3 separate regions of the Homo sapiens genome follow, and all the other regions are linked to region 1. The links come from fine-mapping of genetic effects on gene expression. A gene starts in region 1. Each other region holds a variant in brackets. All regions are shown on one strand. Distances are from middle to middle.

The links. PIP is the estimated chance that this variant, and not a neighbour inherited with it, causes the effect.
Region 2: its variant is fine-mapped to the expression of ASAP2 in gastroesophageal junction (GTEx, PIP 0.96).
Region 3: its variant is fine-mapped to the expression of ASAP2 in cerebral cortex (GTEx, PIP above 0.99).

What each region holds. Positions count from the first base shown.
Region 1 is chr2:9,200,635-9,211,025 of GRCh38, reverse strand. It overlaps ASAP2 (ArfGAP with SH3 domain, ankyrin repeat and PH domain 2), which reads right to left and starts at 4,214. Exons shown (of 28, transcript NM_003887.3): 1 at 3,796-4,214. The coding sequence starts at 3,921. RefSeq lists enhancers at 3,202-4,132, 4,133-5,065 and silencers at 4,495-4,678, 4,425-4,684.
Region 2 is chr2:9,157,830-9,168,220 of GRCh38, reverse strand. No RefSeq gene overlaps it. Among named protein-coding and RNA genes, the nearest start is that of ASAP2, 44 kb to the left of the region's middle. The variant T/C (reference allele first, on the strand shown) is at 4,754.
Region 3 is chr2:9,394,078-9,404,468 of GRCh38, reverse strand. ASAP2 (ArfGAP with SH3 domain, ankyrin repeat and PH domain 2) reads right to left here. Exons shown (of 28, transcript NM_003887.3): 25 at 4,397-4,446; 26 at 3,639-3,727; 27 at 3,073-3,195; 28 at 1-1,216. The coding sequence ends at 1,142. ITGB1BP1 (integrin subunit beta 1 binding protein 1) reads left to right here. Exons shown (of 7, transcript NM_004763.5): 7 at 1-994. Among named protein-coding and RNA genes, the nearest start is that of ITGB1BP1, 24 kb to the left of the region's middle. RefSeq lists enhancers at 3,362-3,925, 10,344-10,391. The variant A/G (reference allele first, on the strand shown) is at 4,935.

The DNA of each region.
Region 1 (10,391 bases):
GCGCCACCACACCCAGCTAATTTTGTATTTTTAGTAGAGACAGGGTTTCTCCATGTTGGTCAGGCTGGTTTCGAACTCCTGACCCCAAGTGATCTGCCCGCCTTGGCCTCCCAAACTGCTGGGATTACAGGCGTGAGCCACCGCACCTGGCCTGACAACAAACTTTTAAAAAATACACATGGGTCACCTGTAATCCCAGCACTTTGGGAGGCCAAGGCGGGCGGATCACAAGGTCAGGAGATCTAGACCATCGACCATCCTGGCTAACACGGTGAAACCCCATCTCTACTAAAAATACAGAAAATTAGCCGGGCATGGTGGCGGGCACCTGTAGTCCCAGCTACTCGGGAGGCTGAGGCAGGAGAATGGCATGAACCTGGGAGGCGGGGCTTGCAGTGAGTGGGGATCGAGCCACTGCACTCCAGCCTGGGCGACAGAGCGAGACTCCATCTCAAAAAAAAAAACACATGGGTTAACAGATACACGGTAGTGTTTCATTCACTCACCCATTCAGCCATTCATCCATTTCCCTGACACTTCCCCCCATGTAAATCCCATCCTCACTCCAAAAGCCCTCACTGGGGCCTGTGGACTCACTAACTATATAATCTGGTAACTAATTGTCTGGCAGCTTCTGTGCTATGTACTATCTTCCTAAACCCTCACCACAATCCTCTGAAGTTGATAGGTATTATTAACCAGACTTTAAAGCTGAGGAAAATAAGAAAATGTTAGGCATCTCACTCAAGTTCACTCAGCTGGCAAGCTGTAGAGCCTGAACTTGAACCCAGGTCAATCTGACAAAGGAGTAATTTAGAGAATTCGGCATTAAGAAAAGTAACAGGAAGCAGCATGGTTTCTGAAAACAGCAGGAGCCAAGTTCAAAGTCCACTTCAGAGCTCTATAACCTTTGGCAAATTACTTAACCTCTCTGAGCCTCAATTTCCTCGCCTATAAAGCAGAGATAAGGACTGAATTCAATACCTGTGAGTTTCATAGTACAGGATAAGGGCCCAACAGTTACTATAATAATATTCCAGCAACAAGTATGCAAATCAAAACAGCACATTTTAATTGTAAAATGATTCTTTGGCAGATAGAACCTACATTGGAAATAACAGATTCAAAAAGGTTAATCAGTTTAAAATTAGTTTGCTGGCCGGGTGTGGTGGCTCACGCCTGTAATCCCAGCACTGTGGGAGGCTGAGGCAGGTGGATCACCTGAGGTCAGGAGTTCGAGACCAGCCTGACCAACATGGTGAAACCCCATCTCTACTAAATACAAAAAATTAGCTGTGCATGGTGGCGCATGCCTGTAATCCCAGCTACTTGGGAGGCTGAGGCAGGAGAATCGCTTGAACCTGGGAGGCAGAGGATGCAGTGAGCCAAGATTGTGCCATTGCACTCCAGCCTGGGCAACAAGAGCAAAACTCCGTAACAAATAAATAAATAAATATAAAATTAGTTTGCTAGTTCCGTGATTCATTTGTTTAAACATAAGACCAAGAGCTTGCAAATTTTATTTATTTGTTAAATGAGTAACTTTATGTCATGATACCCTCTCATGTTTCGTCTCAGTATGAGAAGATTTTTGTTTAAAACCAAAATACTGTACACATCAATTGTTATTAAACCATACATAGAACAAGTTTTGGTAATAGACACGAACATTAGACACCTGGGAAAGAGCATTATTTAAAGAAATCCACATTGATTTACCTCAGAAAGTGAACAACTTTCAAATTTAGTTATAAAACCAAGCTCACACATACCATCATCATAGCATGTATGTAGATTTGCTTAAAGTGAAATAAACCTGAAATGATTTTAATTTTTCCATTTTGAGACTTGAACCAATTCTTGGGCTTAGACGGCAGCATGAAGCAAGCTTGCAATTTAATGAAATGACCAAATCCAGTCTCTTTGTAATCTGCTCAGTAACTGAGCTCTAGGGTAATCTCCTGCACAGCATACAAAAAGAGCTTTGGAATTATACACTGTAAACTAAAATTAATCAGAGAAAGGTATGCCAATTTTAATAGCAATTCTTGTTTGCTTGGCTTTCCAACATCTGCCAGTGTTAATAATATTTAACTGACAAACTGCAGTGGGGAAAAGCAACAGAACTTTAAACATAATCAAGCTTTCTAAAGAAAGACATCATGCACAATGCTTCCTTCCCTTAAGAAATATTCAGCTACCTTTTTGGTTGCAATCATTCCATAAACATTATTAATGGTGTATTCTCAAAACACCGTGCTTTTTAACTGGCACTTAGGAAAAAATTTCATTCACCCATCCCCATCTGCCTCATTTGAAGGCATCATCTGTAAGCCTTGCTGCTAAAAGTAGAATTAAGTGATCTGGGGAATCACCGAATTCATAGGAAAGGTTTACATGCAGCTCTCTTCCGCCAAATTAAATGGAGAGAAGGAAGGCTACCCAAGTTATATTAACAGGATTCAGAATGCTGAATGTTACTTTTGACTCCCTTTTATTGACTGTTTACAGCTACAAAGAAAAAATTTTTCCATTAAGGGAAAACATTCTGGATTTTTTTTCAAGCAATTCCTAATAGCAGATGCTTTGTTCAAATGGGAAAAAAAAAAAAAAACCAGAAAAAAAAAATAACGCCATTGCTTCATTTAAAGCTCTTTGGTGACACCCACCCCCCCACCCACACACACACTCCTGCTAGCCCAGGCGTCTTCTGCTAAAACACCTGCAATACCCAATTTTAAAACTGTAACCTGACATCCTGGCCCAGAGACATTTAATCACAGATTCACTATTGCCACACGTGTGACTTGTAAACCTATTCTGAGCCGAGCAGAGTGCTAAGCACTTCACACAGTCTCTGATCCTGGAAAGGATGCATTACTAATCCCGTTTGATGGGTAAGGAAAAGGAGGACTGCAGGTGAGGATGTGCCTCAAACCACAGCCAACGGTGGCCCCTGGACTCACAGACTCTGCCCCTTTCCCCACGGCTTTAATTTTCAACCAAGCTTCTTCGTTCCTACGTGTTCCTCTCCCCAGGACCTGGAGAGCGTACTGCTTAGCAGCTAGGCGTGATGACTTTGCACCTTGAGAGCACTTTACTAAAACCAGGCCTTTTCCAGGTTGAGGGGGAAGGGCGGCATTCCGGGTTCAAGCAGGTGAGACCCAGGTAACCGGGGAGCGGCTCCTGGAGGCTTCTTGGACCCAGAAGCGCCGACTCTCACACACCTTGCCCGCAGTTCCTTCTCCGGGCACGGGTGGAGCGCAGCCAGGCCGCCCTGGCTGAGGCGGGCACGCCTTCCCGGGCAGCCCGGGATGCCCCGGACCCGCGGACCCGAGGGTGGGGGCCCTGCGGCGCTCGGGGGCTGCGGCGGGGAGCTCGGAGCGCGGAGCTGCCCCCGCCGGTCCACTTCAAGAACAAGTTGATAAGGTCCGCACCGGGTACCAAAGACCCCGGGCGGCGGCGGGCGGCGGCGGGCAGCGGGATCCCCCGCTCGCCGCGGACCCCGACTCTGGACAAAGTTGGCCGCGCTGCGGGGAAAAGACCAGGCCGCGGAACCCCGCGAGGGCCACGAGGCCGAGAGAGGGGAGGTCTTAAAGAGGCCCAAGGTGGCCATCACCCATCTCCTCCGAGCCACCTAGGCGGGAACAAAGGGCTTCTGTCTCGGGCAGGGTTGGCCCGGCCGCGTCCGGCTTCGGAGCAAAGAAAGTTTTCTCGGGATGCGGATGCGGGAGCGGCGGGCGGGGCTGGGGCGCGGGATACCTGCGGCCGGAGCCGCCGCGCAGGCCGCCTCACCTCCTCGATGGCCGCCACAGTGTTCCGGCACTGCGCCGTGCGGGTGGTGAAGCTGGAGGCCGTGGGCGCCTTGTAGTCCTCATGGGTCTCGGCCACGAATTCCGACACGGAGATCTGGTCCGGCATCGCCTCGGCGCGAGGGCGCTGGCGCACAGCCGCAGGGGCGCCGCCGCCTCAACTGCCGCAGCAGGCTCCGACCGCCGCTCGGACACCGCCGCTGCCGCCGCCGCTCCGGCCCGCGGACAAAGGGGAGCGCCGGGCGCGGGAGCCGCGCGGGGCCTGGCGGCGGAGCAGGGGCGGCGCGCAGCCCCGCGCAGCTCGGCCGGTCCGCCCGCCTGCGCGCCGAGGGCTCCGAGTCCGCTGCCGCCGCGTCCTCTCAGAGCGAGCCCCGAGGCGGGCGCGCACAGCCGGCGGGAACTACCCGCCACCCAGCCGCGGGCCCCGACGCCTCCCGCGGAGAGGGGCGGGTCCGGGCCGGGGGCGGCGGCCGGCCGGGCGTGGGGCGGGGCGGCGGGAGGACCGGGCCGCCAATCGGCGCGCTCGCCGCTGCCGCGCCGCCGGGAAGCGGATCCCGCAGGAAGGAAGGCGGCGCGCGCCCCGGCCCGCCGAGCCGTTCCTGGCCGCCGCGCGCCGCATTGTCTCGGCGTTCCGGGCCCCGCGCGCCGCGCCCATGCCCCGCCCCCAGCCGGCCCGAGGCCCCGACTCCGACCCGCTGCCCGCGAGGGTGCGTGTGGAGGTGCGCCCCGCCGGAGTCCGGCCTTGTGCGCGCCAACCGCCCCCCGCCCACGGCGCGGAGCACCTCTGGGCTCCCCACTTGAACGGCGGGCCGCGCCGGCCCATGAGGAAAGCGGGGTGCGGAGCTCGCCCCCTGCCGGAGGATGCGCTCCGCCGGCGGGCACCCTGCGGGGACCACAGCCGGACGCCAGAAGTGACCTGACCGTGAATGTGCGCTTTGCGTGCAGTCATTGCATCGTCGCAGGCCTAGGAGACAGATGAAGAGATGGGTGCTTATTTTATATAGGGGACACAGTGTGCCCAAGAGCACAAGATAAACGGCCGGGTGGGGATTCAAACCCATGTTCCCTGACTCAAGTGTGAGTGCTTCAGAGCGGTGAGGGGCCCCTACTAAAAGTCCCAGTCGCGTTTCCTAGGCTGCCCAATGATAGGTATTCTCGGTTATAGTTTTAGGGTACTAGGCCAGGACCCACCCTGGGAAGGCTGCTGAACGCCCTGAAGTGGTATTCCCGCAGGCAGAGGAGGGAACCGAGGGGGTGCAGGAGGAGGAGGAGGGGGAGAACGTGCTACAGCAGCCAGCCAACCTCACACAAAACCGGGCCAGTAAAGGGTTCGAACTGGTACCGATTTTTATTTACAGCTCTTAAGGAAATTCTCGGTTATACTGAAAAATCCAGAAGCTCTGAAGATACCAGTCAAATAAAATCACACCCTATAACTCTACACCAGACTTGTGGCATGGTTTCTGTAGCTGCCAGCGGTAAAACCAAGAGAAACTTTACAAAAACCTTTTGTGCATCTGAAAAGGAGGAAGTGTGAGAGACACTGGAAATTCAATATGTCAGACAAAGCCGTCTCCTGACACTGCAGGACAGTAGACCAGTCAAACAATCTTTTTAAAGCCCCCATGTAAGAAGTTGCTATATGAGGTGGCAGCTTGGGTCAGACATTATGTATGGCCTTTGGTATTTTAGTAGCACTGCATGTAAAATTTAACTTTCTAAAATCGCTGTATTCGTGGATAGCTTTTATCATTGCACTAGACAACAAGTTACAATTTAAAAATTGTATCTGTTTCTTTTTATGTTTTTTGATCCTTTTGGTGTCTGAAGTTTTCCTCTATTTGCAACCTTCTACAATTCATGTTTTGTGTTTATTATTTATATTAATACATCCTCTCCAACACCAGGCAGATTCTGTTCCCGCCTACCTAGTTTCCCAGCTACAGTTTTTGACATGAGGGAATATGCTGAATAACTTTTCAAGTCTTGATTTGTAGAGGGCTGGTCTCTATGAGGCTATGAGGGATCTAAGAAAGAAAGTCGGGTTTTTCCTTGATGTCTAGTACAGCATTAACCAGACTAATCAATACTTCTACAAGGACAAAGTTAAGCTTGGTATTCTCTGTTCTCTCTTTATATACAACTCCGGTTCTTGTTTCTTTTAGTTTAATTTTGCAGATACAGGAAGCTTTAGTAGCCTCAAAAAAATAAAATTGCAAAGCTGTGTTGCATTGCAAGGCTGGTGGAAAACAACAATTAGTTACCAAGTTCATTGGTGGCCTAAAGAGGATACCAAATTGGTAGAATGCTAGAGCCATTTATTCCTCCATCATCCCTTAGAAATCTAACTTGCCTACTGCATAAGCCTAGAATTAAAGCAAGACCAGAGCAAAACATAGCTAATGCCTTTCTGAGATTAATATAAGAATGAGTAGCTTCCAATAAATAACAATAAAATTAAAGTTCAACATGGATCAAGGAAACACTCTACACATACTCATTTTTTTAAATGCATCAAGAGAAGAAGAGTATGCTGGTAATGTCCTTACAGGCCTATACTTCCTTAACCAGAATTACTAAAAATCCCTGAAAATGTAGCTTTACAAATAGTTCTTAATAGTAAAATTCATCTGAAATGAACTGATGTGAGGCTATGTGTGGTCTTGTTTATCCTACCTCATGTGAATATGTATGTTTTGCTGCAAAATATAAACATGGTTGATTATGAAGTATTGCCCCAGACCCTACTGGGGGTAATTAGGAATATGTTATTATATGCAATGTGTTACCTTTCTAAAATCCGAAAATTTCTGAATCCACACATATCTGGCCCTTGGGGTTTCAGTAAGAGATTGTAGGCCTGTATTATTTTTTTTTAAAAAAAAAGGCGAAGAAAAAGGAGGAAGGAAGAAGGAGAAGGAAAGGAAGAGGAAAAGGAGAGAACGAAAACGTGATGTTAAAGACATCGTTTCCAGAGAAGAGACTCTCCTCCCAAAAATGAAATTTTTAGCGGCCCAGTGAGATTGGCCAACAGCCCATTTTCCAAAGGAATCTTCTGCCTCTAGTAGTTCACAAGAACCTGGGATTTATCACTCTCAGATCAAGGTGTAAAATATGTTCTTGACTCTGAAATTTGCTTGAGGGTTGGCTGGTTTACACAAGACTTGTCCAGTTCACTTGCTATTAACTTGTAAATGATTACTCTTGGAATGGGCAAATATGTGCTTTGAAAGAACTATGGTAAGAAATAGTAACAACAACCTAAAAACCCTGGTGATGTGAACATGGAAGTATAACTGAAAGTTTCTTTTCGTAACTTAATAATACTCTGCCCAAAATCGTGTTGCTGAAGGGACCCATTTATCCCCAAAGTGAGAGAAGATTGAGTACATTTACCACAGTTATCTCACTTTAGCACCCAGAAACTATTTTACAAATGAAAACTTGGGTTTTGGTAATAAATTGCTTCTCTGTGATAAGTAAGCTAGCCTCCCTAGGCCGGGCGCAGTGGCTCACTCCTGTAATCCCAGCACTTTGGGAGGCCGAGGCGGGCGGATCACGAGGTCAGGAGATCGAGACCATCCTGGCTAACACGGTGAAACCCCGTCTCTACTAAAAATCCAAAAAATTAGCCGGGCTTGGTGGTGGGCACCTGTAGTCCCAGCTACTCAGGAGGCTGAGGCAGGAGAATGGCCTAAACCCAGGAGGCGGAGCTTGCAGTGAGCTGAGATCCGGCCACTGCACTCCAACCTGGGCGACAGAGCGAGACTCTGTCTCAAAAAAAAAAAAAAAGAAAAAGAAATAAAGCTAGCCTCCCTAAAGAGTGTAGCTTGGACTAGCTAATTTCTAAGGCGCCTCCCCGTCCTGGTGTCCTGGTGTTCGTGCTGCCATTTTCTGTGTTTTATGTTAGTTTAGACACAAGAGAGAAAAATGCCACAAAGCATTGCTAAACATTAGTACTGAGACTCTAATTATTGTCCTAGACTTTTGAGAATGAGGCATGTTTTAGATGCCATTGGGAGCTAAATTTTTGAGAAAGTGGTCATTTTGTTAAGATGGTAGATTTAGATAACAAGCAGATTTATTCATTGCTAACTTTACAGATAACTTGAGGCCTGTTCATTTTTTTATTTTAACAAAGCAGTTTGAATAGATGACACACTCATTGCTGAACTGGAAAGAGAGTAATAGGTAAATTAAATATGATCAGTCATATACGGGAGTCACTTGTGCTGGCTCCAGAGACCTGATTCTTCAATTTTCAGGAATTTTGCAAGTTGGTTGTATCTCTTCTCTATGGTAGAAATATTATATCATGGTGTGCTAGTGAACATCTCTTCCCAACTCCATGTTCTGGTAGTTTGAGATTGTCCATGGTAGAGTATTTACAGCAGGAAAATTGGCAAATGATAAAAATCAAGGCCTGATTTATTGTTTTGTTGATTGTCTAACTTAATAAACTTAATGCAGTTATAGAGAAAGTATCATTCATGCGGATTAGACTTAAAGGTGTGTCAGGTCTACAGCCATCGCATTGTAAATAATGAAATTTTTGAGGAAATACCCTTCTAATATTTACAAACTAGTACATGATTGAGTAAAAAGGTCACTCATGTCATTGACAGATGAATAAAGTTATAGCATGCATCTTCACTGTTTCAGTTTTGTCTTATTAACATAAACAAAAAAGTCAACTAAATTCAGGTTGGAACTACACTCATTTGTTTTTTTTTTTTTTTTTTTTTTGAGACGGAGTCTCGCTCTGTTGCCCAGGCCGGACTGCGGACTGCAGTGGCGCAATCTCGGCTCACTGCAAGCTCCGCTTCCCGGGTTCACGCCATTCTCCTGCCTCAGCCTCCCGAGTAGCTGGGACTACAGGCGCCGCCACCGCGCCCGGCTAATTTTTTGTATTTTTAGTAGAGACGGGGTTTCACCTTGTTAGCCAGGATGGTCTCGATCTCCTGACCTCGTGATCCACCCGCCTCGGCCTCCCAAAGTGCTGGGATTACAGGCGTGAGCCACCGCGCCCGGCCTACACTCATTTGTTAATGACATGAGCAACTTTGCTGAGCTGGGCAATAATCAAGCATTTATTTATAGTCTTATTTTGTCAAATTGTGGTTGAATTGCAGACACAGATTGGCTATGAATGAAAGCATTTGGCCAAAATCAATGAAACCATTCTGTGAGAATCAATTAACTATATGGAATTTACACTAAAGAGTAGTGTGTAATTTGTAATTACTCATAAATTGTGTGCTACACATTTTTTAAATCAGTAAAAGTTAAAATAAACGTATTTACTTATGTTCACACATACACCTTTTCAGAGAGTAGATTGTTGAACATTGACCAGCCCACTTCTGAGTATAATTGTATCATCCTTGTCCAGAGTCAGGGCATTGGAACTTCCAGCTCTGAGTCACTCTTATGGACTTAAAACACATACAGGATAAAATCTCAGTAAATTGGACTATATGAGCAAAGGAACTTGTGTTAATAAAAAGTATTTGTCTTTGAGTTATTAAGAAAATGCCATGTGTTGTTTTCAAGTACTCAGAACAACACAACCCAGTACCGACAGAGGGTGTGGTTTGTTTTAATGAAAGAGCAAAAAAGAGTTTAATAAGCACTCTGTATGTAAATAAGTTTCTCTAAAGCTTTTAAAGTGCATGCAATAATTTATCTTCTTGAGTCAACTCAGTCTCTTCCGCCTCCACGAAGACCCATTCTTAATTTTGCAAGGCCCCCTCTTAGTTGGTGCAGAAGTCCACTTGTGTCTTATCTGGATATGTTCTCCCTGGGCTAAAGAATGTCCAGTGGTTTCCGTTTGGCCCCTAGATAAGGTTTAAACTCCTTCGTCACAGTTTGTTCCAGCCTTTTCCCCAACTTCCTTGACCCTGGCCCTCCCCACACCATATTTTGACCCAGGGATCTGCAAACTGTGGCCCAGGGGCCAAATATAGTTCACAACCTGTTTTTGTAGTGTTTGTGAGCTGAGAATGGTTTTGACACTGTTTAATGGTTGAAGAAAATGAGAAGAAGAAGAATATTTCATGACGTGTGAAAATTACATGGAACTCAAATTTGAGTGATTATAAAGTTTCGGCAGCACCACACCATTCTTTTACCTCTTATCCACGGCAGCGGAGTTGAGTAGTTTCGACAGACGTCAAATGGCCCCCACACCTAAAATATTTGCAATACTATATGGCTCTTCATAGAAAAAGTTTGCCAGCCCCACTTTCACCACACCAAGCTTGCCATGTTTCCCAGCTCACAGTGCCCTTGCGTGCCATTAAGTTGAATGCAGTCTCCCTGCCTTTCATCTGTTTCCCAGAGGGCAAGTTAACTCACCATTCACTGAGCACATTATGGATTTCCTTGTCCGTGACCCCTCATGGGGACTCCTCTGCCTGGAGCACTCTTCCTCTTGTCCATCTGGCAAACTTCTGGTCCTCTTTCAGGATCGAACCCAAATCTCCCCTCCAGACATCATTTCTGAAGTCTCTGGGTAAAACTCTGAGTTCCCCCTGCTTCCACAGTGCTTTACACATAGCCTAGCGCTGTTGTGAGGGG
Region 2 (10,391 bases), 43 kb after region 1:
CTTTCATTAAACCCTAGAGCTGGAAGCAGACTGAAAGGTGACTGTGTCCTCAGGGCACTGGTGTTTAGTGACTTTCCCAAAGTCTGGCCAGAGACTTTTCACTTTATGGATTTGCCTTGAATTCTTTCTTGCACAACATCCAAGAACGCTCTCTTGGGGTCTGGATGGGGACCCCTTTCAGGTAACACCTCCTCACCTGCTTTTTTGCCTCTTGCGCTCCTCCCTGCCTGCCCCTCAGCTGCTGCCCTAGGCTTTGCAGCAGAGCCACGGTGAGAACTGGACCTGCTGCCTCGCCCTGGGCACCCAGCTCTGGATGTTGATTGGCTCCTTAGTTATCAACAGCCAGCTGTGCCCAGGCAGGCTATACAAGGTCACAAAGGTTAAATAGGCCATGGAGGAAGCACGGCAGAGGCTCGGGTCCTTTTCCTGACTAACTGTCCCACGTCCTTGATTCGTGGCCCCTGGGAAGTCAGTCACCAGGCAGAGGGATGCTCTAGCTGACATTAAGATGAATGGATTGACCACTAACTCATCGTGTGGCTTCGGGCAAATCACATCACCTCTCCAAGTCTCAGGTTCTTTATCTGTAAATGAAAACACTGGTTGAAGATGTTGCTCCAGACATCCAACCCTTGCTTTCACAAGGAATGCAGTTTTCCTTATAGCTGTGCCGTTGACCTTCCTCCACATGCAAACCGAGAAGGGTGTGTGTGACAACCCATGTCCTAGCCCTGTTTTCCGAAGCTTCGGGTGTCACACATTGTGGAATTCTCAGGGCAAAAGGCACTTGTCTTTTGTTTTTCTGTGCTATGCAGTGTCTTTAGCATGGAGAGGAGTCTCTTCACTAGATAGTGGGCGAGGGCTACCTGTCTTCTGTGTTCTATCATCCCCGACTTCCCCACCTTGCCCTGCCCCATTTGAATCTTAAAATGCCGTAAGTGCAGCTGACCCGAGGGCCAGGGGAGAAATAGCTACACGAGCCCAAACCAGAAGCAGCTGGGATCTGTCTGCTGGGCTGTGATTCATGCCAGCAGTGTAGGATGGGGACTCAGGAGAGCTGGGTTCTAGTTTGTTTCTGTTGCTTCCTCATCTGAGCAAGGCTCTCCGCCCAGCTGAGCTTCATTCTCCCTCTGAAACCTCAGAAGAATCAGCTCTCTGGATGCCCAGGTCTTGGGCCTCCTGTCCCTCAGATCCCTTTGCGGCTCTTCCCTCTCTTCCGGGTCACAGAGTGGGCCTGAGGCCTGCAGGCGGGGTACCCAGGCTCAGCATTCCCTGGCTTCTGGAGGCTCTTGGCCAGTGGGAAGCTCTGGGAGGAGACAGAAGGAGTAAGAAGGTGGAAGCCCGGCTACTTCTCCCTCGGCTCTGCCTCCAACTGCAGCTGGGCAGGCCTGCCATGGCCCCAGTATCTACCACATGACCCCAGCCCTGGGCTCAGCTGATGTCACCTCTCACCTAGGGTGACAGTGGCTTCCTGCTGTTGCCTCACTGTCTGCCTGCCAGCTCAGCTCCTCCATCTTCTATTCCTGGTGGAGCCTGGACAACCACAAGACCCACACTCCCAGAGTCAGTGCTCTGTGTCTTCTAGAATCTTCTGTTCCCCACATTTTCTCATTTGAAAGTGAAAGTTTTGTGCTTGGTGATCTTCAGTCTGTTTCCAAACACGCGAGCTCTGCACCTGTAACAAGTCCTTTAGGCCCATGCAGTGGGGGTTAAATTCACCATTTAGTCCAGTGATTCCCAAACTTGCCTGAAGAGCTCATTAACAATGCAGGAATACAGGCTCCAAACCCTCGGACTACAAAGCAGTCTCTGGGGTAAGGCCCAAGAATCTGACATTTATCAAGCATCTCAGGAGATTCTAGTGCAGGCATTCTGCTGCCCATTCTTTTTTTTTTTTTTTTTTTTTGAGATGGAATTTCACTCTGTCCTACAGGCTGGAGTGCAGTGGTGCCATCTTGGCTCGCTGCAACCTCTGCCTCCCAGGCTCAAGTGAGTCTTCTGCCTCAGCCTCCTAGGTAGCTGGGACTACAGGCGTGCGCCACCACCATGCCCAGCTAATTCTTGTATTTTTAGTAGAGACAGGGTTTCACTATATTGTCCAGGCTGGTCTCGAACTCCTGACCTCGTGATCTGCCTGCCTCGGCCTCCCAAAGTGCTGGGATTACAGGCGTGAGCCACTGTGCCCGGACTTGCTGCCCATTCTTATGGTGCCTGTGGCTCCGGTTTATTGAATAAACCTCAGAGACTGCAGAAAGAGCCAGGTGCTGCTCCTCGGTCATGCCCTGTGGCTGGATGGCACTGTGAAGTGTCAGCCACATTTTTTTTCTTAACCTTCCTCTGACTCTTGCACCCAGCAGGTGCTTTGAAGCAAACAGAATCCAAATCTGGCTGATGGGAGCAGAACAAGACTTCTTTGTAGGCAATGGGATGACTCACAGAATCTCCAGAAGGGCTGGTGCGCCAGGCCCAGACAGTACACAGCCGGAGCCATATCCCAACTGCAAAACAGCAACAGTCCTCCAGGACACTCAACCCCTGGTTCTGGCCACAGGCCGCTGGCTACACCAGGATGCCACCATTAGGGTAGAGATTTGATCCCATAGTTAGCTGTTGCCACTGCCAGAGAGCTCTTTGCTCATTTCATTATGAATTTCCAATTCAAGATCAAGGCTACATGTAATGCACTGGCCTCAAGCGAGGCTGGGGAAGTGAGTATCTGGCATTTTTAGCTTCTAGAAGCAGAAGAGGGCTTTTCTCACATGAAGACCCATAGGCGGGAAATTCTGTAAATATAGGAAGGGGGTTCAGCCGCAAGAACAAAAAGAAAGACAATTGTCTGCTGCGTGAACCTTGCTTCACATCCCTCCCCCCGACTGCCTGGTTCACCTTCTGGAGAGAAGGCTTCCGTGGCTCCAAGAGGAAGTTGTTATAGCAGAACCCGAGAACAGGGGATGAAATTCTTGGTTTTAAAACTGTGAATTTTTTTGGCTCTGGACCCATGTTAGAATCTTCTGGGAGACTTTTTTTTTTTTTTTTTTTTTTTGAGACAGAGTCTCACTCTGTCACCCAGGCTGGAGTGCAGTGGCGTGATCTCGGCTCACTGCAAACTCCACCCCCCAGGTTCAAGCAATTCTCCTACCTCAGTCTCCTGAGTAGCTGGGATTACAGGCGCCCGCCACCACACCTGGCTAATTTTTGTATTTTTAGTAGACTCAGGGTTTCACCATCTTGGTCAGGCTGGTCTTGAACTCCTGACCTCATGATCCACCCTCCTCAGCCTCTCAAAGTGCTGGGATTACAGGCGTGAGCCACCGCGCCCAGCCTCTCCTGGGAGATTTAAAAAAATATCCATCCCTGGCCAGACGTGGTGGCTCATGCCTGTAAACCCAGCACTTTGGGAGGCCGAGGCGGACGGATCACAAGGTCAGGAGATCAAGACCATCCTGGCTAACACGGTGAAACCCTGTCTCTACTAAAAAAAACACAAAAAATTAGCCAGGCGTGGTGGCGGGCGCCTGTAGTCCCAGCTACTCGGGAGGCTGAGGCAGGAGCACGGTGTGAACCCGGGAGGCGGAGCTTGCAGTGAGCGGAGATGCACCGCTGCACTCCAGCCTGGGCAACAGAGCGAGACTCTGTCTCTAAATAAATAAATAAATAAATAAATAAATATAAAAAATAAAAAATAAAGAATACCCATCCTTGGCCTAGCACAAACCAATTGAATCAGAATCTCTGGAGCTGGGGCCTGGATGCCAGTATGTTTTGTTTTGTTTTGTTCTAATCTCCCCAAGTGATACTGACATGCGTCAGGGCTAGGAGTCACTGCTGTAAAGTCTGAGAAGCTATGAGCAAGGTGTAAGACAGGGCGGGAGGGTTTAGAATCACATGTGATTAGGCAGAAGTGCTTCCCCCACCCTCCTGGCACACTGGAGAGGGGTCCTGAGCTGGTGGAGAGGGGAGACCCAAGAAGGGGGAACAGGAGGGGGCATGGGGTGGGCCTGACTCTGCCCTCCTCAGGCTGGGCCCCAGGGCTGGGTAGGGGTTGCAGGAAACTTCAGATAAGCTAATGATTGAGGGCAGAGGGTTCTGCTTGGAGCTGCCTGGTCGCCTTCCAGTGCTGCCCCTGCCCCGGGGCACTGGGAGCAGCCAAAGGCTTTTCCTCTTGTGACTGAGCCAGGCTCAGTCTGGATGCCAAAATAAGCCATACCTGAGGCTCCTATGGCCTGGAACGAGGAATGTGGTAGGGACCTCAGGACTGGTGGCCTGATGGGTGGGGCCACAGGAGGTGGCAGATTCTGGAGCCAGAATGCAAGAGCTTGAATCCAGAACCCACCACTTATAGGTCTGTGACTCGGGCAAATTACATAACCTCTCTGTGCCTCATTCTCCTCATCTGTGAAATGGGACTAATACTGTCCCCACCCCGATAAGGTTGTTTTGAGGGTTACCTGGATGGGTATCTGAAGCACCAAGCACCATGTTCAGGAGATACACCGTTAGCTCTGTATGGGAGCATCCTACAGAAATACACACATGGGCATGCAGACGTCTTTACGGATGCCAGCCCAGGGGGAACCAGATGCAACCCCCATGCCCTAATGCCAAAAATGCCCCAGGGAGAAGAGCTGCAACTCTAGGGAGAAAGTGGGGAGCAGAAACACATACATTGTCTAATTTTATCATGAGTCAACTGAGAAACTTTTGAATTGGCAAGATTTTATTTTCTGTGACTAAGAGGAATGGGAGCTAAAGA[T/C]AGAAACTAAGTCTAGCTCCAAAAAACTAAAGAAAGAACCATTTTGCATACCTGAGTATAGGGCTTAAAAAAATGCCTATTTTTGTATATTTTATAGCTCTGGAGCTATAAACTTCCAGGAGACTTTCTTGGGTCATCACAAACACAACACGTCATTGGTGTCTTAGTGCATTTTCTGTTGCTATTAGGTTGGTGCTTTTTATGCCATTAAAAAAAAAAGTATGGCAAAAACAGGCTGGGCGCGGTGGCTAATGCCTTTAATCCCAGCACTTTCAGAGGCCGAGGCGGGTGGATCACTTGAGGCCAGGAGTTTGAGACCCTCTGGCCAACATGGTGAAACCCTGTCTCTATGAAAAATACAAAAATGAGCTGGGCGTGGTGGTGGATGCCTGTAGTCCCAGCTACTCAGAAGGCTGAGGCAGGTGAATCGCTCGAACCCCGGAGGTGGACGTTGTAGTGAGCTGAGATCATGCCATTGCACTCCAGCTTGGGCAAGACAGAACGAGACTCCCTCTCAAAAAAGAAAAAAAGAAAAAAAAGTATGACAAAAACTGCAATTACTTTTGCACCAACCTAATATAACTGAAGACCTGAGACTGGGTAATTTGTAAAGAAAAGGAACGTATTTCTTTTCTTTTCTTTTTTTTTTTTTTGAGATGGAATCTCGCTCTGTCACCCAGGCTGGAGTGCAGTGGCGTGATCTCGGCTCACTGCAAGCTCTGCCTCCTGGGTTCATGCCATTCTCCTACCTCAGCCTCCCAAGTAGCTGGGACTACAGGCGCCCACTACCATGCCCGGCTAATTTTTTGTAATTTTAGTAGAGACGGGGTTTCACCGTGTTAGCCAGGATGGTCTTGATCTCCTAACTTTGTGATCCACCCGCCTCGGCCTCCCAAAGTACTGAGATTACAGGTGTGAGCCACGGCCCCCGGCCGAATGTATTTCTTATAGTTATGGAGGCTGGGAAGTCAGAGGTTGAGGGGCCACATCTGGTGAGGTCCAAGTTCAACGTGAGTTTCGGAGGGGACAAACATTCAAACCACAGCATTCTGGTGTAGGAAAATATTGAAGTTTGTTCACTGCCATGTTCTCTTAATAAAGCAAAATCTTATATGTGACTAAAATATCCAACCACAAGATAATGTCTAAAAAAATTCTAGTTTATGAATATGCAGCCTGTTAAAAATGATCATTTTAAAGAGTATATATAAACCTCGAAGTATTTTATGGTATACATTTTTTTTTTTTTTTTTGAGACAGAGTTTCACTCTTGTTGCCCAGGCTGGAGTGCAGTGGCACGATCTCAGCTCATTGCAGCATGTGCCTCCTGGGTTCAAGCGATTCTCCTGCCTCAGCCTCCCAAATAGCTGAGATTACAGGCGCTCACCACCACACTCAGCTAATTTTTATATTTCAGTATTTTTATATTTCACCATGTTGGTCTGGCTGGTCTCAAACTCCTGACCTCAGGTGATCCATCCACCTCGGCCTCCTAAAGTGCTGGGATTATAGGTGTGAGCCACCGCACCCAGCCAAGTATACAATTTTAGAAACAGACTGCAAAAATGTAAGTATGATGTGATGGGAACCACATGGTTGGCAAAGAATGGAAGACATACGAAGGGGAATATAGTTTTTGTATTAGGACAGTGAGGTTACGACTATTGCCTCAACATGTTAATGTATGTTGTTTTTGAAAGAAACAAGTCCTTCAGGCTCTGGTCCTATCTGCATTAAAACACATCATATGGACTGCGGTGGGACATTCTTGACATTTGAAGTCCCTCGTAGGAGGACTCCGATGGGGGCTGCGGCCAACTGTCCTCAGCAGCCTGGACAGTGACTCTGCAGGACCCTAGGGTGGTTGCCACCCCTTCTCTGCAGTGCCTGGGGCAAAGATGCTCTACCAGAAGCTACTACTGCCAGCACAGAATAAACATGCCATCCCCAATCAGTGGAGAAGTTTGGACTGTTTTATAAGGATGTCAGGGAAATTAGCAGGGGAAATGAGCTATCCATGTAGAAAAGATAAAATCTGATTTTGGTCTTATGTTGGGTTTCTCACACATGGATCCTGAGCTGAGGATTTGTGAGCAGGTGAGTATACATATATTTTTTTGTTTGTTTGTTTGTTTTTGTTTTTTTTGAGACGAAGTCTCGCTCTGCTGCCCAGGCTGGAGTGCAGTGGCATGATCTTGGCTCACTGCAACATCCACTTCCTGGGTTCGAGATTCTCCTGCCTCAGCCTCCCAAGTAGCTGGGACTACAGGTGCCCGCCACTACGCCCAGCTAATTTTTTGTATTTTTAGTAGAGACGGGGTTTCACCACGTTGGCCAGGCTGGTCTGGAACTCCTGACCTCGTGATCCACCCGCCTCGGACTCCCAAAGTGCTAGGATTACAGGCGTGAGCAACCATGCCCGGCCGAGCAGGTGAATTTTTAAGAAGTGCTCCCAGTGAAAGTCAGCAGGGGAGTAGGGAAGTGAGGCTGGGAAGGGACAAGGCCAGGCAAGGATGTAGAATCAGCGAAGTCCTGTGGAGGGCAGCTGTGGCTCAGTCCTCAGGGCAGCCTAGGGGCAGCATAAATCCCATCCAAGTTTGTTACAAGCAGAGATCAGGGTGTAAGTTACTTATCCCCTGCACAGGTTGTTTGTAAGGCTTTCCCTGGGGGACATAAACTCAGCTCTTCCAGGTCTCAGCATGTTGGCACAGTGACAGCCTCTGTCACAGTCTCTGCCTTGCATCATAAACAAAAAATAGATTTTAAATAAATGAGGGGTTTAAATGTGAAAAGTAACTATAAAATCATAAGATGAAATATTTTAAAAAATTTTGTGTGGGGAAAGTTTTTAAAAGAATAAATCATTAAGAAAAGAATCTAGTAAAAAATGAAAAAATAACATAATAAGCATAATAGAATATGAAAAAGACATACGCAACATTAAAATGACCAATAGTATTGTTAAAAACTGCTCCTCTCCACCAGTAAAAATGCAAATTACAATAATAATGAGAGACTATTTTTAAACCTATAATATTGGAAAAAAATTTTTTTAGTGAATTATATTAACTATTGGAGAGTTTATAGGGAAATGATCATTCTTATGCAGTCTTGTGGGAGTGTATATTGGTACAAAGTTTTTGGAAGGCAATTTTGCAATATCTATCAAAATTTCAAATGTGTATGTCTTTTGCATAGCAATTGTACTTTTATGAATGAGTAATAAAAATACATGCGTAAGTGAGCAAAAAATCTATCTAATATGTGTACATATGCACTGATATTATAAAGTGTAATATAGAATATACAAAAGCTTATGTATACTAATGTATATGTGTATACTAATATTAATAGATATATATATTTTTGAGACAGAGTCTGACTCTGTCGCCCAGGCTGAAGTGCAGTGGTGGGATCTTAGCTCATTGTAGCATCTACCTCCCAAGTTCAAGCAATTCTCCTGCCTCAGCCTCCTGAATAGCTGGGATTACAGGTGTGAACCACCACGCCCAGCTAATTTTTGTATTTTTTGTTAGAGAGAGGGTTTCACCATGTTGGCCAGGCTGGTCTCGAACTCCTGACCTGAAGTGATCCACCTGCCTAGGCCTCCCAAAGTACTGGGATTACAGGCGGGAGCCACCATGCCCGGCCTTCATAGACTTTTTTTTTTTTTTTTTTTTTTTTTGAGACGGAGTCTCACTCTGTTGCCCAGGCTGGAGTGCAATGGCATGATCTCAGCTCACTGCAACCTCCACCTCCCGAGTTCAAGCAAGTCTCCTACCTCAGCCTCCCGAGTAGCTGGGATTACAGGCACCTGCCGGCTAGTTTTTGTCTTTTCAGTAGAAACGGGATTTCATCATGTTGGCCAGGCTGGTCTGGAACTCCTGACCCCAGGTGACCTCCCTGCTCAGCCTTCCACAGTGCTGGGATTGCAGGCGTGAGCCACTGTGCCCAGCCAATAGATTTTTATAGTAGCAAAATATTTTACATTAATGAGTAACAACAGAAAAATAGTTAAATCAATTATTATATATTTACCTAATGGAATGTGATTGAGCCAGTGAAGTAATACCAATCTAGGTGTACAACAGTTTATTCTAATTCTGTTTTCTGAAAGCTATTAACTACTGTAATGAGATATTACTGCACATCTATCAGAATGATTAAGGTAAAAATGGCACCATCCAATGCTGGTGAGAATGCACGGAAACTGGATGTCTCAGACATTGCTGCAGGAATATAAAATGGTACAGCCACCTTAGAAGACAGTTTGGCAGGTTTTTTTTTTTTTTTTAACTATTCATGCATTTACCATATGACCCAGCAATTGCACTCCTGGGCATTTATCCCAGAGAAACGAAAACTTATATTCACACATAATCCTGTGCACAAACATTCAGAGCAACTTTATTTGTAATAGTCCCAGACAGGAATTAGCTGAGATGTTCTTCAACGGGTGAATGCTTAAACAAGCTGTGACACATGCATGCTATAGAATGCTAGTCAGCAGTGAAAAGGAACAAACCTGCTGGCACACGCAGCAACTTGGATGGGCCTCTAGAGAATTCTGCTGGAAAAAAAAAATTCCATCTTTGCTGCTCTGCCTATGGAATAGCCATTCTTTTATTCTTTTACTTTCTTCCTTTTTTTTTTTTTTTTTGGAGACAGAGTCTCACTCTGTCACCCAGGCTGGAGTGCAGTGGCTCACTGCAACCTCCGCCTCCTGCATTCAAGCGATTCTCCTGCCTCAGCCTCCCAAGTAGCTAGGACTACAGGTGCCTGCCACTATGCCCGGCTAATTTTTGTATTTTTAGTAGAGACGGGGTTTCACTATGTTGGCCAGGCTGGTCTTGAACCCCTGACATCAGGTGATCTATCTGCCCGCCTCGGCCTCCTACAGTGCTGGGATTACAGACGTGAGCCACTGCGCCCAGGCTATTCCTTTACTTTCTTAATAAACTTGCTTTCACTTAAACAAAACAAAACAAAACATACTAAAAAAGGATGGGGGAGGGGTTGGGGGGGAGGTTGGTGTGGTTATTAATAACCTCTTTAAAGAGGCAAAAGAAGGATCCTTTGGGGCTGGAAGTGTCCAGTATCCTGACTCCGGAGGTGGGTACATGACATAGAAAGGTGAGAAGATTGTATAGAACTTAATATGCACCCATACTCATGCCAGTGAAGACAAGTGAACCTGGGAAAACTTGACAAAGATCAGTGGGTTGGATGAAGGGCCGTAGCCTGGTTGGGGACATTGCGCTACAGTTTTGTGAAATGTTGCCATTGGGGGAAACAACCAAGGCATCTTTCACACTGCCTGTGAATCTTCTCTCATCTCAATAAAATTTCAATTAAAAAAGCTATTAGCAATAACATATGTTGATATGTTTATATTTGCATAGCAACATGTTTGAGAGTGAAGATCAGGCAGTTAGTGGTTATTTCTGAGATATAGGATCAAAGGGGAATTCTTAATTTTATACAAGTTGTGCTTAAATTTTTCCAAGGGTAATTTATTTTTGTAATTAAAAACAAGGTTTGTGTAAAAAGTAAATAAACCATTTTGCATTCATAGCAAGGTTACTGGAGTCTAGCCCAGTAGATTAACAAATGAGTCTAGTTTGTTGCAAGAATGACA
Region 3 (10,391 bases), 190 kb before region 1:
ATAGACAACCTAATCCTCTACTACCACCCCAAGTAGCTTAAGAATGATATGATGGCCTGAAACAGTAAAAAGTGGGATGTTTGGGAGTATTACCTGGGACCTATATATTTCTGATATGTTCTTGATTATAAACAGATGGACAGATTCAATTTCAAGACAGTGTGACTACCATTCCTGTTGGAGTATTATAGAAATACAAGACACTAAACTGAGTAAACATTCTCCTGGGCTAGAAGGGAAGGCAGTGGTACACTCAGTAGGAAACAGCAAGTGATGTGTTAATACAGCATGGTCTGCGCCACAGAATTCTACTGTGTACAGTTGCTTTCTGTGTGACTCAGGAAGTTCAAGAAGGCAAATTCCAAAACACCTAAAGCATATAAACTAATTTAAAAGAACTGTTTTGCAATCCATCATCCTTAGTTTTTAACCAAATTCAGGAAATGCAGTTTTATATAACCTGGAACAGAATGAACTGTAGTTACCCTACGTTGTCATAAACCATCAGTAGTTTTGTTAAGTATGATTGTTCACAACAGGTTATACATACATGCAGAATATAATGATAGCTGCAACCTCACAAATTAGGGCTAGAAAGTACAATGCTAATGTGTAAATTTCCAAGTTGCTTTTTAAACACTGGGTGGATTTCAAAGGAATGTGTGTCTTTAAAGGTGAACTGATGGCATTTTATCGAGAAAGTTCAGAGCTGGGCTATGGACTTCTGAAGCAGCAGTTCACTGGCCGCCTAAAATAATAATTGTGATAAAGGTCACCAACTCCAGAACTGGGCCAAGGAATGCAGGAAGAATTTATTCATTAATGCAAACATTTTTAGGTTTAGCTAATTCCGTAGAGGCAGGATCTTGATTATGTATAATAGTTAAAATAACTTTTCAGTTCACCTGTTGGGAAATTCAGTTTTTCCTAATAAATGCATAGCAATGTTTCATGAAAACCACAAATTATAAAAACAATTACTGATATGTAAAAATTGCCTCTGAGTTTTTAAAACAGAGCAGTGGCATTAGAGAACATGGGCTGCCATACAAACAGTTCATGAAACTGGTTATCTGGCAAGAGTTTTGGTACCAATAACGAAACAGGAACATAACTGTTAATGCTTTTGTTCAGTAGCAATTCAGTCAGCGATAAAGTGCACAAATGACACCGGGAATGCGCCTTTGCGACCAGGATCTCCATCAATGTGGCCAATCTGAAATGGAGAAAAGTGTAGGTTGTTATTAAAATTCCAAATGTTGGTGGAAACTTTGAAGAGCATTACATAGAGCGTTTGGTGAAGAAAAGCAAGATTGGTTCAGAAGACTCTTCCGACAAGGAATTACTTAGGTAAAACATCCAAATGATTTTTGTCCGTTTTTCCTCACCACATTTCAAATAGTGCAGGCCTCTCCCGTGTAAGGAGCTCTTCCCAGCCATGTCCCAGATGTTCGCTCGTGGGGATGGCCACCCCCACCTGTTCTTGGGAGGCACACAGGTCAGCTGTCTGACCACTACTTCCCACTTGCCATTTTTCAATGAATGAATGAATGAATGAACTGAGTGTCACAAGTTTGTGAGCTGCAACGTCACCTAAAGTGGCAAAGGTATAAGTTGGCCCCATTTCAATGAGTTAAGTACTTGTGGAAGGCTTCACTCTATCCACTTATGTTCCCTCTTGGGTAGATACATAAATTATATCCAAATATGATCTCAAGAGTGTAAATGATGTAGGCAAATAAAAGGCTAAAAACAGCCAAAATATGAATGGTGGGCTTTTTGTGGAGTGGGTGGGGGGTGCTGTGGTTATGGGCAACTTCTGTTTTCTTCTTTATGCCTCTATTTTCCAGTTTTGGAAATGAGCAGGTATTTTCCACATGGCTAAGCCTGTGGTCAGGTTGGCGCCCCTTCCGGATGGTGGGTTGTGGGCAACTGTGGGAGCTGGCTGGTTCCCGAGTAGCTGGGATTACAGGTGCCTGCCACCACACCTAGCTAATTTTTTGTATTTTTAGTAGAGAACCATGTTGGCCAGGCTGGTCTCGAACTCCTGACCTCAAGTGTTCCGCCTGCCTCGGCCTCCCAAAGTGCTGGGATTATGGGCGTGAGCCACCGCGCCCAGGCCACAGACACTTTCAATCCATTAAGGGCAAACGAGGCCACAGGAAAGACCGGTGAACCCAGCTCTGCCAAATGAAGGCAGTGCTGCCTGGCCCTGAGAGCTCACAGCGCCTCTGGAGGCTGAAGACATGCAGTTTAAACACTAGTGGGAGTTCTGGGAGGGACAGTGACTAAAGACAGTGTCCAAACTCCTCGCACTCGACAAAGAAGTTCCCCTAAATCCTGTGAGTTCCCAGCTGAACTGTCTGCTCTGAGCTCAGTTGCGGAGCTGTGCCACTTGCGTCTACTGTGTGGTGGGCTCAGCCTGGGGCTTTCTGTCCACGCCCCATTCAAGCCGGTTCATCCACCGCCCTCACTGTCTGCAGCTGCCGCTTAGTGGGTGCTCACAAGATCACCTGCACCAGACTGTGTGTGTGTGACCTCCCTGTCACAGATGATCCCACTAATGCTTAAAGATAAAAGCAACCTGCCCCAAGCCACCAGCCCCTGAGTGGCCAAGTCTGAATTCTTAGGTGGCCGGCACTCATCTTGCTCCCACACCCTGCTGGACGCCTGGGCGGCCACAGCTTGTTTCAGGACCAGACTCAGGCCTGGGGCTCTGCGCTCTAGGTCAGCTCTCTCCAGACACCCGATTCCACTAATCCAGCAATGGGGGGTGATGACCTAGAAACTCAAGACCTCAAAATGAAGGAGTGTCATTTCAGGCCCTCATGAGTGCTGTGGAAACTGCACCCTAACAGGGGAGGAAGCCACCCTGGGGAATAATCAGGCCTGCTCAGAAGGGGGTGTCCATGGAGGAAGCAGCTCCTGAGGATGCTAAGGGGCGGAGGCACCAGGAACTACATCTGGACTGCTCAGGCTGAGAAAACCTCACCTGCAAGCCCGTCTCTCCAGCCAGGTGGGCAGGGACGTGGCTCAGCCCCCAGGAACCTCCCAGGCCCACCCTTGACTCACCCACCACTCCTGGTCCTCCTCCCCGTCCACGATGATCACATCCCCCTCGGAGAAGGTGAGCTCATCGGGGTTGTCAGCCACACAGTTATAGAGCGCTTTCACCCGCTTAGGCTTCAACTTGGTCTGGGTCAGGAGAGGGAACAACGGTTAGTGTGGCTGCAGGCCTCAGCTCTCAGGGCAGAGAGCTCAAGCACCCTGCCTTCCCCGGTCTCAGGAGTCCCGTACCTAGGCCTGAGAAGCCTGCAGATGCCAAGGTGGGGCAGGTCAGTGCAGCTCAGGAGCCAGGGAGAGAAAAGGGAAGAGCTCCCCACCAAGCAGAGAGAAGGGGCCAAGGGCTGGGAAACGAAGCGGCCGGGGCAGGGTACTCTGAGTGGGCCCATTGTGGAGCTGCGGCAGGAGGGCCAAACCCACCAGCTGCCCAGATCCAAGCAGTCAGGTACCAAGAAGAGCCCCGCCCTGCCCCAGCCAGGGGAAGAGGGGAAGACTTGCTTCCCCTGAGCCCTTGTGAAACCACCTGCACCCCCCTGGCTAGAGCAGAGAGGCAGGAAAGGGGGCTCGTCACTTACTGCCTGCGACTTCCTAGGCATGGGTGCAGGGGGCTGCAGGACCATAGCATTGGACAGAGGACCCAGAGCTTCCGTTGCAGAGAGATCCACTGTAGGGCAAAAATGAAGCAGCTTAAGACATCCCATCAATCACAGCCATGAGATGTAAACAATGTACAAGCCACAGGGTGTGTCTGAAAGCAGGTTTCCCCAGGTGTTCCGATCTGTTGAGGGGAAAGGGAACCTTCTGACTTGGATGCAGACCTTGGAGAGCTTGTGTGGCAGCGAGTGTCCCCCAGTGAGCCTGCCATGTCAGCAGGAGGGGACAGGTGAGGGGCCCCAGGACTGAGCTGCTCAGGAGCAGGGGTCTCAGAGGCCGAGGGAGGAGGGAGGATGGCAGGAGGGAGGAGGGAGGAGGAAGGCAGGGAGGAGGGTGAGAGGAGGGGAGGGGAAGGGAGGGGTGGAGGAAGGCAGGTGGCGGGGGAGGAAGGCATGAGATGGGGGAGGGAGGGGGAGAGGAGGAGAAGGGAGCAGAGGAAGGCAGGAGTGGGGGAGGAAGGAAGGAAGGAGGGAAGGAAGGAGAGGAAGAGGGCAGGAGGGGAAGGGGGCAGGAGGGGAGGGGGCAGGAGGGGAGGGGGCAGGAGGGGAGGGGGCAGGAGGGCTGTGGAATGGCAGACAGCTGGGCCCTCCCTCAGTCCTGACCACCTGGCAGGAAACATCCCCCACATTGCCCCCATGGACCAAGCAGAAACAAACTCAGTCCCAAATTAAATAATTACCAGGTCCTCTCGGTTGGCCTTTGTTGGTCAGTGGGGTGGACTTGTCAGCCCTACAAAGACAGGGAAAAAGTAGATTTACTGCTACCGGAGGGCACCTGCCCCTTTCTCATCCCCTTTTATCAGAGAACCTTCTGAGTTCAAGCTCAGAGTGTGTGAGGTGGTTTCCTCCACTGTCACTTAGCTGTCTCTTTTTTATGGGAAAAGGAAGAATGAGAGGCCCTGAGGAAAGTGCTAAATTCAACGTTTCTGATCCTAAAACCAGGGCTTTTCCAGAGCACTCTGTCCACGTGAGCCTGCCACCGATGGCCAGGGTCTGGAGTGATGCTGGGCACTGGCCACTGGCCCCGCCCCGAGTCTGCTCAGCCCCTTCCCTGCCTTGGTCCCATCACATGAAAGGGCAGGGCTGAACCTTAACCTCAGGCCCAGATGGCTTTGCCAGGACGGGTCCGAGCACTCTGGGTCAGCGCTGTCCATGCCTCTGCCGTCCCTGCTTCTGGGAACCAATGTGGCTGACCACGGGCTCAAGCCCCATCCATGA[A/G]CCTCTGGGCCAGCACACCCCAAAGCCACAAGGTAGAAACACATGAGTGAGGAAGTAGTTCTCAGGGCTGGCAGAGAGGGGTCCCTCATCTCGAACCTGCCACCTGGCAGCCCTGGATAAATGGGTTCTGGAGAGTCAGCATTTTCATCTGCAAAAGGTGTGACACAAGATCCGTCAACTCCAGAGCTAAGGACCAGTGCCAGTGGCTTCAGCTCCCCGGTGGATCTCCTGGACCTAGCATAAAGCCAGGCACAGGACGGGGGCTGGAGAAGCAGAAGAGGAAGACCAGGGAGGAAGGGAAGGGGAAGGCAAGGATGGGATTCTTTCCACTGTACGCTCCCGTCTGTCGACACTCCCTTCGCTGCTCGGAATGAACCCTGTCTGGCCTCAATGCTTGCAGTCCCAGAATGAAGGGAGAGAAAACATCACATGGGTTTTGCTCATACGCTGAAGGAACTGAAAAGGAACTTTGTTTTATTCCATAAAACAAAGACCCCTCCCATTTGACCAGTCTAGCCATTTGTTTTCCATCTGTGTCTCTGGGTGTAAATGTCTCTGCAGACATCACTACACTGACCTGGCTGACCCCCTGGCCGGCAGTCATCCCTAACTACAGAACACTCGCAGGGAAGGCCTGATCCTCTGAGACAGCAGTGAGCAGACTTTTTCTTTAAAGAGGCAGATAGTAAACTTTTTAGGCTTTGTGAATTTTTTTTTTTTTTTTTTGAGATGGAGTCTTGCACTGTCACCCGGGTTAGAGTGCAGTGGCACAATCTCGGCTCACTGCAACCTCTGCCACCCGGGTTCAAGCAATTCTCCTGCCTCAGCCTCCCGAGTAGCTGGAATTACAGGTGTGCACCACCACGCACAGCAAATTTTTTGTATTTTCAGTAGAGACGGGGTTTCACCATGTGGGCCAGGCTGGTCTCAAACTCCTGACCTCAGGTGATCTGCCCACCTCGGCCTCCCAAAGTGCTAGGATTACGGGTGTGAGCCACTGTGCCTGGCCTTTGTGTTTGTTTTTTGAGTCAGGGTCCTGCCCTATTACCCAAGCTCGAGTGCAGTGCGGCAATCAGTTCACCGCAGCCTCGGAACTCCTGGGGTCAAGTGATCCTCCCGCTTCAGCCTCCTGAGTAGTTGGGACTACAGGTGCACGCCACCATGCTTGGCTAACTTTCAAAATTTTTTGTAAAGACATGGTCTCACTATGTTTTCCAGCCTGGTCTCGAACTCCTAGTCTCAAGCAATCCTCCTGCCTCGGCCTCCCAAAGCTCTGGGATTATAGGTGTGAGCCACTGCACCCAGCTGGTTTTGTGGATTCTAGCATCTCTGTTTCAAGTATTCAACTCTGCCACTGTGGTGTGAAAGCAGCCCCAGACTACATAAAAAAACAGGTGTGGCTAATGTTCCAATAATATTTTCTGAGTGCTGAAGTGAATCTCACACAATTTTCATGTGCCACAAAATATCCTTTTGAGGCCGGGCGCAGTGGCTCACGCCTGTAATCCCAGCACTTTGGGAGGCCGAGGCGGGCGGATCATGAGGTCAGGAGATCGAGACCATCTTGGCTAACATGCTGAAACCTCATCTCTACTAAAAATACAAAAAATTAGCCGGGCGTGGTGGCGGGCGCCTGTAGTCCCAGCTACTCAGGAGGCTGAGGCAGGAGAATGGCGTGAACCCGGGAGGCGGAGCTTGCAATGAGCAGAGATCGAGCCACTGCACTCCAGCCTGGGCGACAGAGCGAGACTCCGTCTCAAAAAAAAAAAAAAAAAAAAAAAAAATATATATATATATATATATATATCCTTTTGATTTTTTTTTCCCAACCAATTACAAATATAAAAGCCATTCTTAGTTCTTAGCTCATGGCCCTAAAAAACAGGCAGCAGGCTGGATGTGGCCTGTGAGCCATAGTTTGCTGACTCCTACCCTAAGAGAACAGGTGTGAAAATTCACATTTATCCCAGAGACAAAATCACCGGTGGTGGGGAAGGGATAGCATCCTTCACAAGGAGGGCGTACCGGTGTGTTCCTTTACAGTCAGAACTCCACTGGGCGCTGACGACATGGCTCCGTCCATCCCCGTCTGTCCCGGGTAGCCCTAACCTCACTTGCCCTGCTTCCCTTTTTCCTGCCAGTCAGATGTGAAACCAGGTAAAATTGTGTTCCAGAGGAAACCTGTCCAGCTCCCGCCAGCTAGAACGCTTCTGAGAACAAGGAACCTGCACCTCACAGCTGACAACCACGGTTCTCAGAGTCCCAATAACTGCTGGGAGCTGACGGCTCCTTAGCCAGGACTTCAACACGTGATTTGTTTCTCTCGAAAAACAGCAGCATGGAAAGCGTAAATCCCAGGGAGTCATAAGGGAAGGCAGAAGAGAGCCCAGAAGCCAAGAGAAGCATGGCCTGTGGCCACTTTGGTATAGAGGCAGAAATAATTAGCACTGGAAAGCCCATTTATTACAGCATAATTCAGTAGCTGTTTAAGACTAGGAGGGCACAGATATGCATATTTTATTTTTATTTTTTTGAGACGGAGTCTGGCTCTGTTGCCCAGGCTGGAGTGCAGTGGTGTGATCTTGGCTCACTGCAACCTCCACCTCCTGGGTTCAAGTGATTCTCCTGCCTCTGCCTCCCGAGTAGCTGGGATTACAGGTGTGTGCCATCATGCCCGGCTAATTTTTGTAATTTTAGTAGAGATAGGGTTTTGCCATGTTGGCCATGCAGGTCTTGAACTCTTGGCTTCAAGTGATCCACCCACCTTGGCCTCCCAAAGTGCTGGGATTGTAGGTGTGAGCCACTGTGCCCAGCCCTGCATGTTATATTTTAGAAAGTTATCTTGCAAAGTAGCATTTAAAAAGTTTTGGGAGTCTTCTGGTTAAAATGGCAGATTTAAGTACATTTACTTCCATTTCTTTCCAAGGAAAAGGATTTTTAAAAATTAAACCTAAAAGAGGTGAGGCGCAGTGCCTCATGCCTGTAATCCCAGTACTCTGAAAGGCCAAGGTGGGAGGACTGCTTGAGCCCAGGAGTTCGAGACCAGCCTGGGCAACATAAGGAGACCCCCACCTCTACAAAATATAAAAATAAATTAACCGGGCATGGTGGTGCGTGCCTGTGGTCCCAGCTATGCGGAGGCTGAGGTGGGAGGATCACCTGGGCCCAGGAGGTCGAGGCTGCGGTGAACCGTGATCACACCACTGTACTCCAGCCTGGGCAACAGAGTGAAAGATAAATCACAGTCAACCTAGTTGATCTCAGGAATGGAATCCCACTCCAGCAGTGAGGAAGGCCCTGAAATGCTCCTATCTGTAGTCCTGAAGTGTCCTCAGAAGGCTCAGGACCCTCTGGAAGGGGAGAAAGGCAAGGTAGTATGCAGAAGAATTAGCCAAAAATCTGTCTGAGGAGCTCCTGAACCCCTGGAATCTCGCCCCAGCTCTGAGTAGCCTTAGCCGCTGCCCTGCCCAACCTACTAAGGACAGGAAGCTTCTATTCTTGGAGAGGGCAAAACGGACGGTGTCTGGATGGGGGATACCAGGTGCGGCTATTGGGAATATCTTGAAAAACAGAGGGACTAAGTAAAAGTTTAACTTTATTTCTCTACTCCTAAAAAACTTCAGGGATGGGCTGGGCACAGTGGCTCAAGCCTGTAATCCCAGCACTTTGGGAGGCCGAGGAGGGCAGATCACGAGGTCAGGAGATTGAGACCATCCTGGCTAACCCGGTGAAACCCCATCTCTACTAAAAATATAAAAAATTGGCCAGGCGTGGTGGTGGGCACCTGTAGTCCCAGCTACTTGGGAGGCTGAGGCAGGAGAATGGTGTGAACCTGGGAAGCGGAACTTGCAGTGAGCCAAGATCGCGCCACCGCACTCCAGCCTGGGCGACAGAGCAAGACTCCATCTCAAAAAAAAAAAAAAAAAAAAAAAAAAAAAAAGAAAAAAAACACAAGAAAAACAAAACAAAACAAAACAAAAAAACAAAAACACAGTAGTGCAGGGATTACAGATGTGGGCCATGGTGCCTAGTCTCCAAATTCTTTATTTTTTTATTTTTGAGATGGAGTTTCATTCTTGTTGCCCAGGCTGGAGTACAATGACGTGATCTCAGCTCCCTGCAACCTCCGCCTCCTGGGTTCAAGGGATTCTCCTGCCTCAGCCTCCTGAGTAGCTGGGATTACAGGTGCATGCCACCATGCCCAGCTAATTTTTTTGTATTTTTAGTAGAGGTGGGGTTTTGCCATGTTGGCCAGGCTGGTCTCAAACTCTGGACCTCAGGTGATCCGCCCACCTTGGTCTCCCAAAGTACTGGGATTACAGGCGTGAGCCATGGCGCCTGGCCCCAAATTCTTTATTGAGAGGTGGAACTGATGACTTCCTTGTGCCACTCCACAGTCCTCTCTGCCCCGACTGTGTCTGAGCTTGTAACTGAGCAGTGACGTATGGCGGAAGTCATTCCGTGCCAGCTTCCAGGGCCAGGCCTCTCTCTGGGGACCTGTCCGTGGACCCAGCCACCGTGATATGAGGAAGCCCATGCCAGGGACATGTAGGTGTTCTGGTCACAGCCCAGCTGAGGCTCTGGCTGACAGGCAGCGTCAGCTACCACGGGGGGCGTGAAGAGACTCTGACCGTAACCCCCAGCCAACGAGTCACCTCCTGTGTCCAACCACCCCCAGGCTTCGAGTCCTTTCAGCGAAGGCTCCAGACACTGTGGAGAAAAGACGAAGACCCCACAGTACCATCCAAATTCCTGACAATCTGTCAGCAGAATAAACTGGCTGTGCCTCATGTCTGTCAGTCTGGTGTGGTTTGTTACTAGAACAACTGAAATCAGAGATGTCAATGTGAACTCATGGATTTCAATACAGAAATATACGGAATAGAGAGATAAGTGGTGTATGTATGTATCCATGTACATGTGCGTATATTTCCAAGTTCTAACAGCTCAGAGGGCCTGTGTGGGAGCAGTGACTCTCCACCTAGCCCCCAGAACTTGGCCTCTAAATATCATTTCCACTAAAAGGAACCATTTCCCACCATAAAGATCCAGATTAAGAGCCACGAACTGGGGCCTGGTGCAGTGGCTCACGCCTGTAATCCCAGCACTTTGGGAGGCCGAGGCAGGTGGATCACGAGGTCAGGAGATCGAGACCATCCTGGCTAACACGGCGAAACCTCGTCTCTACTAGAAATACAAAAAATTAGCCAGGCGTGGTGGGAGGCACCTGTAGTCCCAGCTACTCGGGAGGCTCAGGCAGGAGAATGGCAAGAACCCTGGAGGCAGAGCTTGCAGTGAGCCGAGATCACGCCACTGCACTCCAGCCTGGGTGACAGAGCTAGACTCAGTCTCAAAAAAAAAAAAAAAAAAAAAAAGCCACAAACTAGACCCATCTGCAACAAGGGGCATTATTTGGACAAACAGCTAAGCTTGACCTGGGTCTAAGGATTGGGTGGT